Linked DNA regions of Homo sapiens: region 1 is linked to region 2. Evidence: fine-mapped expression QTL. A gene starts in region 2. The other region holds a variant in brackets. All regions are shown on one strand. Distances are between the middles of the regions. Region 1 has its middle 230 kb from the start of LINC00999. Region 2 holds the start of ZNF248 (zinc finger protein 248).

Region 1 (4,389 bases), 810 kb after region 2:
GGTTGGTAATAAGAAACTTCTCCGAGCTAAAGGAGGACGTTGGAACCCATTGCAAGGAAGCTAAAAACCTTGAAAAAAGATTAGACGAAAGGCTTACAAGAATAAACAGTGTAGAGAAGACCTTAAGTGACCCAATGGAGCTGAAAACCATGGCATGAGAACTTTGTGACGCATGCACAAGCTTCAATAGCCGATTCAATCAAGTGGAAGAAAGGGTATCAGTGATTGAAGATCAAATAAATGAAATAAAGTGAGAAGACAAGGTTGAGAAACAAGAGTAAAAAGAAATGAAGAAAGCCTCCAAGAAATATGAGACCATGTAAAAAGACCAAATCTACATTTGATTGGTGTACCGGAAAGTGATGAGGAGAATGGAACCAAGTTGGAAAACACTCTGTAGGATATTATCCAGGAGAACTTCCCCAATCTAGCAAGGCAGGCCAACATTCAACTTCAGGAAATACAGAGAACAACACAAAGATACTCTTTGAGAAGAGCAATTCCAAGACACATAATTGTCAGATTCACCAAGGTTGAAGTGTAGGAAAAAGTGTTAAGGGCAGCCAGAGAGAAAGGTCAGGTTAGCCACAAAGAGAAGCCCATCAGACTAACAGCTGATCTCTTGGCAGAAACCCTACAATCCAGAAGAGAGTGGGGGCCAATATTCAACATTCTTAAAGAAAATAATTTTCAAACCAGAGTTTCATATCCAGCCAAACTAAGCGTCATAAGTGAAGGAGAAAATAAAATTCTTTACTGACAAGCAAATGCTGAGAGATTTTGTCACCACCAGGCCTGCCTTACAAGAGCTCCTGAAGGAAGCACTAAACATGGAAAGAAACACCCGGTACCAGCCAGTGCAAAAACATGCCAAGTTGTAAAGAACATCAATGCTAGGAAGAAACTACATCAATTAACGGGCAAATAACCAGCGAATATCATAATGACAGGATCAAATTCACACATAACAATATTAACTGTAAACATAAATGGGCTAAATGCCCCAATTAAAGGACACAGACTGGCAAATTGGATAAAGAGTCAAGACCCATCAGTGTGCTGTATTCAGGAGACCAATCTCATGCGCAAATTCACACATAGGTTCAACATAAAGGGATGGAGGAAGATCTACCAAGAAAATGGAAAACAAAAAAAGGCAGGGGTTGCAATCCTTGTCTCTGATAAAACAGACTTTAAACCAACAAAGATCAAAAGAGACAAAGAAGGCCATTACATAATGGTAAAGGGATCAATGCAACAAGAAGAGCTAACTATCCTAAATATATATGCACCTAATACAAGAGCACCCAGATTCATAAAGCAAGTCCTTAGAGACCTACAAAGAGACTTAGATTCCCACACAATAATAATGGGAGACTTTAACACCCAACTGTCAATATTAGAAAGATCAACAAGGCAGAAGGTTAACAAAGATATCCAGGACCTGAACTCAGCTCTGCAACAAACAGACCCAATAGACATCCACAGAACTCTCCACCCCAAATCAACAGAGTGTACATTCTTCTCAGCACCACATCTCACTTATTCTAAATTTGACCACATAATTGGAAGTAAAGCACTCCTCACCAAATGTAAAAGAACAGAAATCACAACAGACTGTCTCTCAGACCACAGTGCGATCAAATT[C/G]GAACTTAGGATTAAGAAGCTCACTCAAAACTGAACAACTACATGGAAACTGAACAATTTGCTCCTGAATGACTACTGGGTAAATAACAAAATGAAGGCAGAAATAAAGATGTTCTTTGAAACCAATGAGAACAAAGACACAATGTACCAGAATCTCTGGGACACATTTAAAGCAGTGTGTAGGGGGAAATTGATAGCACTAAATGCCCAGAAGAGAAAGCAGGAAAGATCTAAAATTGACCCCCTAACATCACAATTAAAAGTACTAGAGAAGAAAAAGCAAACACATTCAAAAGCTGGCAGAAGGAAAAAATAAGATCAGAGCAGAGCTGAAGGAGACAGAGACACAAAAAACCCTTCAAAAAAGCAATGAATCCAGGAGCTTGTTTTTTGAAAAGATCAACAAAATTGATAGACTGCTAGCAAGACTAATAAAGAGAAAAGAGAGAGGAATCAAATAGATGCAATAAAATGATAAAGGGGATATCACCACTGAGCCCAGGGAAATAAAAACTACCATCAGAGAATACTATAAACGCCTATACACAAATAAACTTGAACATCTGGAAGAAATGGATAAATTCTGGGACACATACACCCTTGCAAGACTAAACCAGGAAGAAGTTGAATCTCTGAATAGACCAATAACAGGCTCTGAAATTGAGGCAATAATTAATAGCCCACCAACCAAAAAAAAGTCCAGGACCAGATGCATTCACAGCTGAGTTCTACCAGAGGTACAAAGAGGAGCTGGTATCATTCTTTCTGAAACTTTTCCAATCAATAGAAAAAGATAGAATCCTCCCTAATTCATTTTATGAGACCAACATCATCCTGATACCAAAGCCTGACAGACACAACAACAAAAAAAGAGAATTTTAGACCAATATCCCGGATGAACATTGATGCAAATATCCTCAATAAGATACTAACAAACTGAATCCAGCAGCACATCAAAAAGCTTATCCACCACGATCAACTTGGCATCCCTAGGATGCAAGACTGGTTCAACATACGCAAATCAATAAGCGTAATACATCATATAAACAGAACCAAAGACAAAAACCACATGATTATCTTAATAGATGCAGAAAAGACCTTTGACAAAATTCAACAGCCCTTCATGCTAAGAACTCTCAATAAACTAGGTATTGATGGGATGTATCTCAAAATAATAAGAGCTATTTATGACAAAAACACAGCCAATATCATATTGAATGGACAATAACTGGAAGCATTCCCTTTGAAACCTGGCACAAGACAACGATTCCCTCTCTCACCACTCCTATTCAACATAGTCTTGGAAGTTCTGGCCAGGTCAATCAGGCAAGAGAATGAAATAAAGGGTATTCAATTAGGAAAAGAGGAAGTCAAATTGTTCCTGTCTGAAGATGACATGACTGTATATTCACAAAACCCCATCATCTCAGCCCAATATCTCCTTAAGCTGATAAGCAACTTCAGCAAACTCTCAGGATACAAAATCAATGTGCAAAAATCACAAGCATTCCTATACACCAATAACACAAAAACGGAGAGCCAAATCATGAGTGAACTCCCATTCACAATTGCTTCAAAGAGAATAAAATACCTTGGAATCCAACTTACAAGGGATGTGAAGGGCCTCTTCAAGGAGAACTACAAACCACTGCTCAACAAAATAAAAGAGGACACAAACAAATGGAAGAACATTCCATGCTCATGGATAGGAAGAATCAATATCGTGAAAATGGCCATACAGACAAAGATAATTTATAGATTCAATGCCGTCCCAATCAAGCTACCAATGACTTTCTTCACAGAATTGGAAAAAACAACTTTAAAGTTCATATGGAACCAAAAAAGAACCTGCATTGCCAAGTCAATCCTAAGCAAAAAGAACAAAGCAGGAGGAATCACACTACCTGACTTCAAACTACACTACAAGGCTACAGTAACCAAAACAGCATGGTACTAGTGCCAAAACAGAGATACAGACCAATGGAACAGAATAGAGCCCTCGGAAATAATACCACACATCTACAACCATCTGATCTTTGACAAACCTGACATAAACAAGAAATGGGGAAAGGATTCCCTATTTAATAAATGGTGCTGGGAGAACTGGCTAGCCATATGTGGAAAGCTGAAACTGGATCCCTTCCTTACACCTTATATAAAATTTAATTCAAGATGGATTAAATACTTAAATGTTAGACCTAAAACCATAAAAACCCTAGAAGAATACCTAGGCAATACCATTCAGGACATAGGCATGGGCAAGGAATTCATGACTAAAACACCAATAGCAATGGCAACAAAAGCCAACATTGACAAATCAGATCTAATTAAATTCAAGAGCTTCTGCATAGCAAAAGAAACTACCATCAGAGTGAACAGACAACCTACAGAATGGGAGAAAATTTTTACAATCTACCCATCTGACAAAGGGCTAATATCCAGAATCTACAAAGAACTTAAACAAATTTATATGAAAAAATCAAACTACCCCATCAAAAAGTGGGCAAAGGGTATGAACAGACACTTCTCAAAAGAAGACATCTATGCAGCCAACAGACACATGGAAAAATGCTCATCACCACTGGCCATCAGAGAAATGCAAATCAAAACCACAATGAGATACCATCTCACACCAATTAGAATGGCGATCATTAAAAAGTCAGGAAGCAACATGTGCTGGAGAGGATATGGAGAAATAGGAACACTTTTACAGTGTTGGTTGGAGTGTAAACTAGTTCAATC
Region 2 (4,389 bases):
GGTTTTAATGATTAAATGTCACCCTACCTGGAGAAACTGCATGAACAGAGGAAGGGAGTGTGAATATATATGTACATCTTTTGTTATCACTTATACTTTTAAAAAAGTAAAAGTAATGTATTATTACATTAATGTATTATTAATTCAAAAGCACTTTATTAAGGAAAAAAAATGAAACCAGTCAGGAAAAACAGACCGAGAAGAACCTAAGTAGGCTAAGGATGGAAATGCACGCATAAGCAATGCCTGGAGCAAAAAGAAAAGATGCCTTCATGAGGACTAGGGAGGGAATCAAAGTTAGGAAAGGACAGCTCAGAGGGTGGCATTACAGACACCAACAGAGGAGACTCTCCAAACAAAGACCATGGTTAACAATATATGCAGCAGACCAGGCAAGTAATGCAAAGGCAAAAACATGCACTAGCCTTGACTATGATTTGGTGGCCTTTGCCAGAACTGATTCAGGTGAGTTTAGGTGAGGGAATAAGGTTGCATTCATCAGATTGAAACATAAATGAGAAACACAGAAACAAGTCGGAACTGTCAGTGATTCAACCTAGAAATAAGAACGAGCTGACACAAACAGTTAGGGAAAACTGTTTTGAGGACATGCAGTCCCTCCATTCCTCCACATCGTCAAGGTTTTATTCCTGGATCAAACAGGACCATCAAACCTCAGCGTTTGTTCTCCTGAAAAGCATATGCACTGAGTTCTGCTCTGTAACTGTGTTCTTTGTTTCTACAAAGAAATACTTATAGACAATTTACTGCATTTATTTCAGAATTGTTACTAGAACAATTAGAGATAATATTACAATAACTTGGATAATTCTGCAAAATTAAAAATCCTGCATCTAATTTGCCAACTGCACTATTTTGGATTTGCTACTTCAGTTTTATTTCCCTTAATGTCAATTTTTGCCTATTTCTATTTTTCCATTTTCAAAACATAAACCCTTATAAACTTCAGAAATCCATTTTTAAACAAACTGGGAATAAAGAAACAAGAATCTCACCTGGGATTTGTTCATTTTCCGCTCTTAGTGGAGGAAGGAGAGCTGAAGGATTAGAAAGGAAGAATGTCAGGAGAGCCTTCGCCGGCCTTGCAGTTCGGAGATTCACCTGCCTATACAGGTCCACACACAAGATACTTACGTGTCCATGTGTGGCTCCGATATATGCTGAGCTCAGACATGACACTTTTCACTGAGTGAATGTAAATATTTCTTATTGATTTATTACCAATTTAGGTTCTGTGACACAGAAAAATTAAAAACATGAAAAGATGAGTTTAACAAGTTAACAGTAATCTGAAGGAAAAAACACTATGGGTTTGTCAAAATTCCTTGTAGGGAAAAAAAAAAACTGAGGCCATATTGTTTATCTGTTTACCTGTTAACACCATTAATGCCCTGAGGTTAGATAATGCAAAAGACCTCTAAAAAAAGGGATAGGATGTTAAATGCAAGTTTAAAAATGTTTGTTCTAACTTGCTAACAATTCCTCAAAAGGATCTTTTAATGAGAAACTGTGATATAGAGTAACAAAATGGGCAGCAGTGGCTCGGGAAACTGCAGACTTGACTTCTAATCTCAGTTCTGCCTCTAAGGAATGACAAGATCTGAACTACTCACCTCCTCAAACTCAATTTTGTTTTTCCATCTTTCAAATAAGGTCAAAACAGATAACCCAAGTATGACCTGACTGCACTACCATCCGGCGGGGATATCAGGCCAAGAGAGGAGGAAGCTCAGCAGCTCATCTGGATGTGCCCGGTGTTCGCGGAGGGGTGATAACAGCATTTCTTTCGCTGTGGCCGTGAGCCTTTCACCCGTCCCTGCCCTCAGACTCTCCAGAGGTGACGTTCCTGTTAGCCTGCGCGCCCACCCCTCAGCTCCAGCTCACCTCTCTCTTCTTAAATTTGTCCCAGACCTTGCACCAGCACACAGACTCCGACGGCTTCAGGATACTGTGCCATGATTACACATAATACATAAGCGAACGCGAAACGTGTAAATAATTACTTGGGATAGGAGGGCGGTCAGAGCCAGCAGGGGCCCTGGTGGTCAGCTAGGCCAGCCCCTTCGCTCCTGCACTCCACGGGCAGAGAGGCCCTTGGGGCCGGTGCAGGAGCCGTCTCCCTCGGGCTCTCCCAGGGAACGCACACCCAATAAATACAGCACCTAAACAATGAAAGTGCTCAAAACAACCCCAGGCGGCAAGTATTCCTAATATCCGTAATTTACAGAGAGGAAAACCGAGTCTCCCGTGGATAATTGTGTCTAATTCATTTGTCGCGGACCTGGCGCAGTCGCTCTCCCCCGCAGCCCCGCCTCCTCCCCGCGGGCTCAGGGCACAAAAAGCGCACACGCACACATCAAACGCCATGCGCACGCGCACAACAAACGTCACACGCTACGCACGCGCGTGCTGTCCCCTCCCCGCAGCCAGTTCCCTCCCCTTCGGGCCAGTGCGCATTGCCTACCCCGTGCTACAGGACTTCGCTGAGCGCCAGGCGCAGGGACTGGACGCATACGGACCCCCGGGAGCCCCGGAACTCGCGTTCCCACGCCAGACCTCATCCCCTTCTGACAGAGACGCCCTCGTCCCACCGTCGCCGCAGGCGCCAGGGGTCCCTCCCCACCGCCGAGGTCTAGCCGCCGCCCGCCCGCCTTCAGGGCAGCGCGGGGACCCCCTGGCCCTCGCCCAGTGCTCCGGGGCTCACCCGCCGCTCCTCGCCGCCTCCGGAGGCGAGGGATTGTTTCCCACAAGGGACTGGAGTCCAGGGAAGGACTCGCCTGGAGCGGGAGGCGGGGATGCACATGCGCAGAGGGAGAGGCCGAGCGCCCGAGTTAGGCTGGTGGATGCGATGCGGGGCTTGGAAGCGGCGCTAGACGGTGCCTGTCAGCTCTGGCCGCAACCCTCAGTTGTAAAATGAGGCTGATAGTGCCTACCTAGCAGGGGTTTTATGAGAATTGGAGGCGCTTACGTTGTAAAAGCATTTAAACCGGTGTCTGACACATAAATTGTTCAGTATATTTCTCACAATTATATATCATGCTGGTCATCATAAGGCTCTCCTGCAAAACAGCCTTGTATAGTGGGTTGAGAGATTACTGTCTCAGTTACCCACTCCTGCTTGGAACCAGGATTCTGTCAGTGTCCCCAGAGGTTGTGGATCAAATCAATGTGCCTGTTAGACACAAGCCAAGAGAAGGAAAGGTGTGCTTGAATTCATTCACGATCATGCATGGTAACGTTTAACTGAAAGACTGGAAGAGAAAACTAAAATCTGTGACCAGTATGGTTATTCTCTGGAATAAGGAAAAACAGAAGCTAGCAATTCAAGACCCAAACATAAAATTGTTTATATGTTTAAAAAAAAAAAAGCCGTTTGAGTAACAAATTTGAAGAAGAAAGCACGCACTCATTTCCCAAAACCAACCATACTTTACCCAGAACTACACTACACGTACATTCTTTTACGTGCACATCTGGCATTTTCAGCACACTATGAGCATGTGCGTGTGTTACAACTTTTCATTTAAAAAATCAACTCCTGGGTCATTGTCCACTTTTTTAAACTTTTCATTTGCTCATAATTTCAGATTTACAGAAGAGTTGCAAAATAGTTCCTATATGCCTTTCACCCAGATTCCACTAGTGTTAGTATTTTACATGACCATGGTATATTTATCAAAACTAAGAAAATAACATAGGTACAAGTACTATTAACTGAACTGCAGAGTTTATTCAGACTTAAGCAGTTCTTCCACTAATGCCCTTTTTCTGTTCCAGCAACCAATCAAGGATATTGTCACCGGGGGTCCTTGCTCCCAGAGCTCCCAAGATGGTGGTGGGCTGCTTCCGAGATGGGGGCAAGCCTCATGTTCTCTGACCTGGGGTTCTTGGCCTCATGGATTACAAGGAATGGAATTTTGGGCTATGTGGTGAGTGTTATAGCTCAATTAGAAGCCGTGGGTCACGGAAGAGAACTGTGGAACCCAGTGACTAGTGTTCAGCTCGATTAGGACCAACCTGGGACTTAGCTGTGCAGGAACAATGGCAAGCCTTTAGCCCAACTTGGGAGCAGCAATGGGCACCTCGCTGGATCAGGAGCACAGCGGACACCCTGCCAGATCCGGAGGGATGGAAGTCAGCGGCGGGTCTGCGAAGGCCGCAAACAGCAGCGGTGGACAGCGAGCGAAAGCTCAGCTCAAGCCGTAACAAACACGGACCAGAAGAGAGTGCAGTTGCAAGATTTAATAGAATGAAAACACAGCTCCCATGCAAAGGGAGGGGACCCAAAGTGGGTAGCTGTTGCCGGCTCCAATGCCTGGGTTTCTATCCCGATCATTGTCCCTCCCGCTGTGCTCTTAGGCAATAGAT

The links.
Region 1: its variant is fine-mapped to the expression of ZNF248 in lung (TOPMed, PIP above 0.99).

The regions. Positions count from the first base shown.
Region 1 is chr10:38,660,360-38,664,748 of GRCh38, forward strand. It overlaps the pseudogene SLC9B1P3. Among named protein-coding and RNA genes, the nearest start is that of LINC00999, 230 kb to the left of the region's middle. The variant C/G (reference allele first, on the strand shown) is at 1,648.
Region 2 is chr10:37,855,280-37,859,668 of GRCh38, forward strand. ZNF248 (zinc finger protein 248) reads right to left here and starts at 2,331. Exons shown (of 6, transcript NM_021045.3): 1 at 1,906-2,331; 2 at 1,156-1,253; 3 at 1,017-1,058. The coding sequence starts at 1,031. ZNF248-AS1 (ZNF248 antisense RNA 1) reads left to right here and starts at 2,470. Exons shown (of 2, transcript NR_186559.1): 1 at 2,470-3,222; 2 at 3,799-4,389. RefSeq lists an enhancer at 1,824-1,883 and silencers at 2,201-2,577, 2,274-2,823.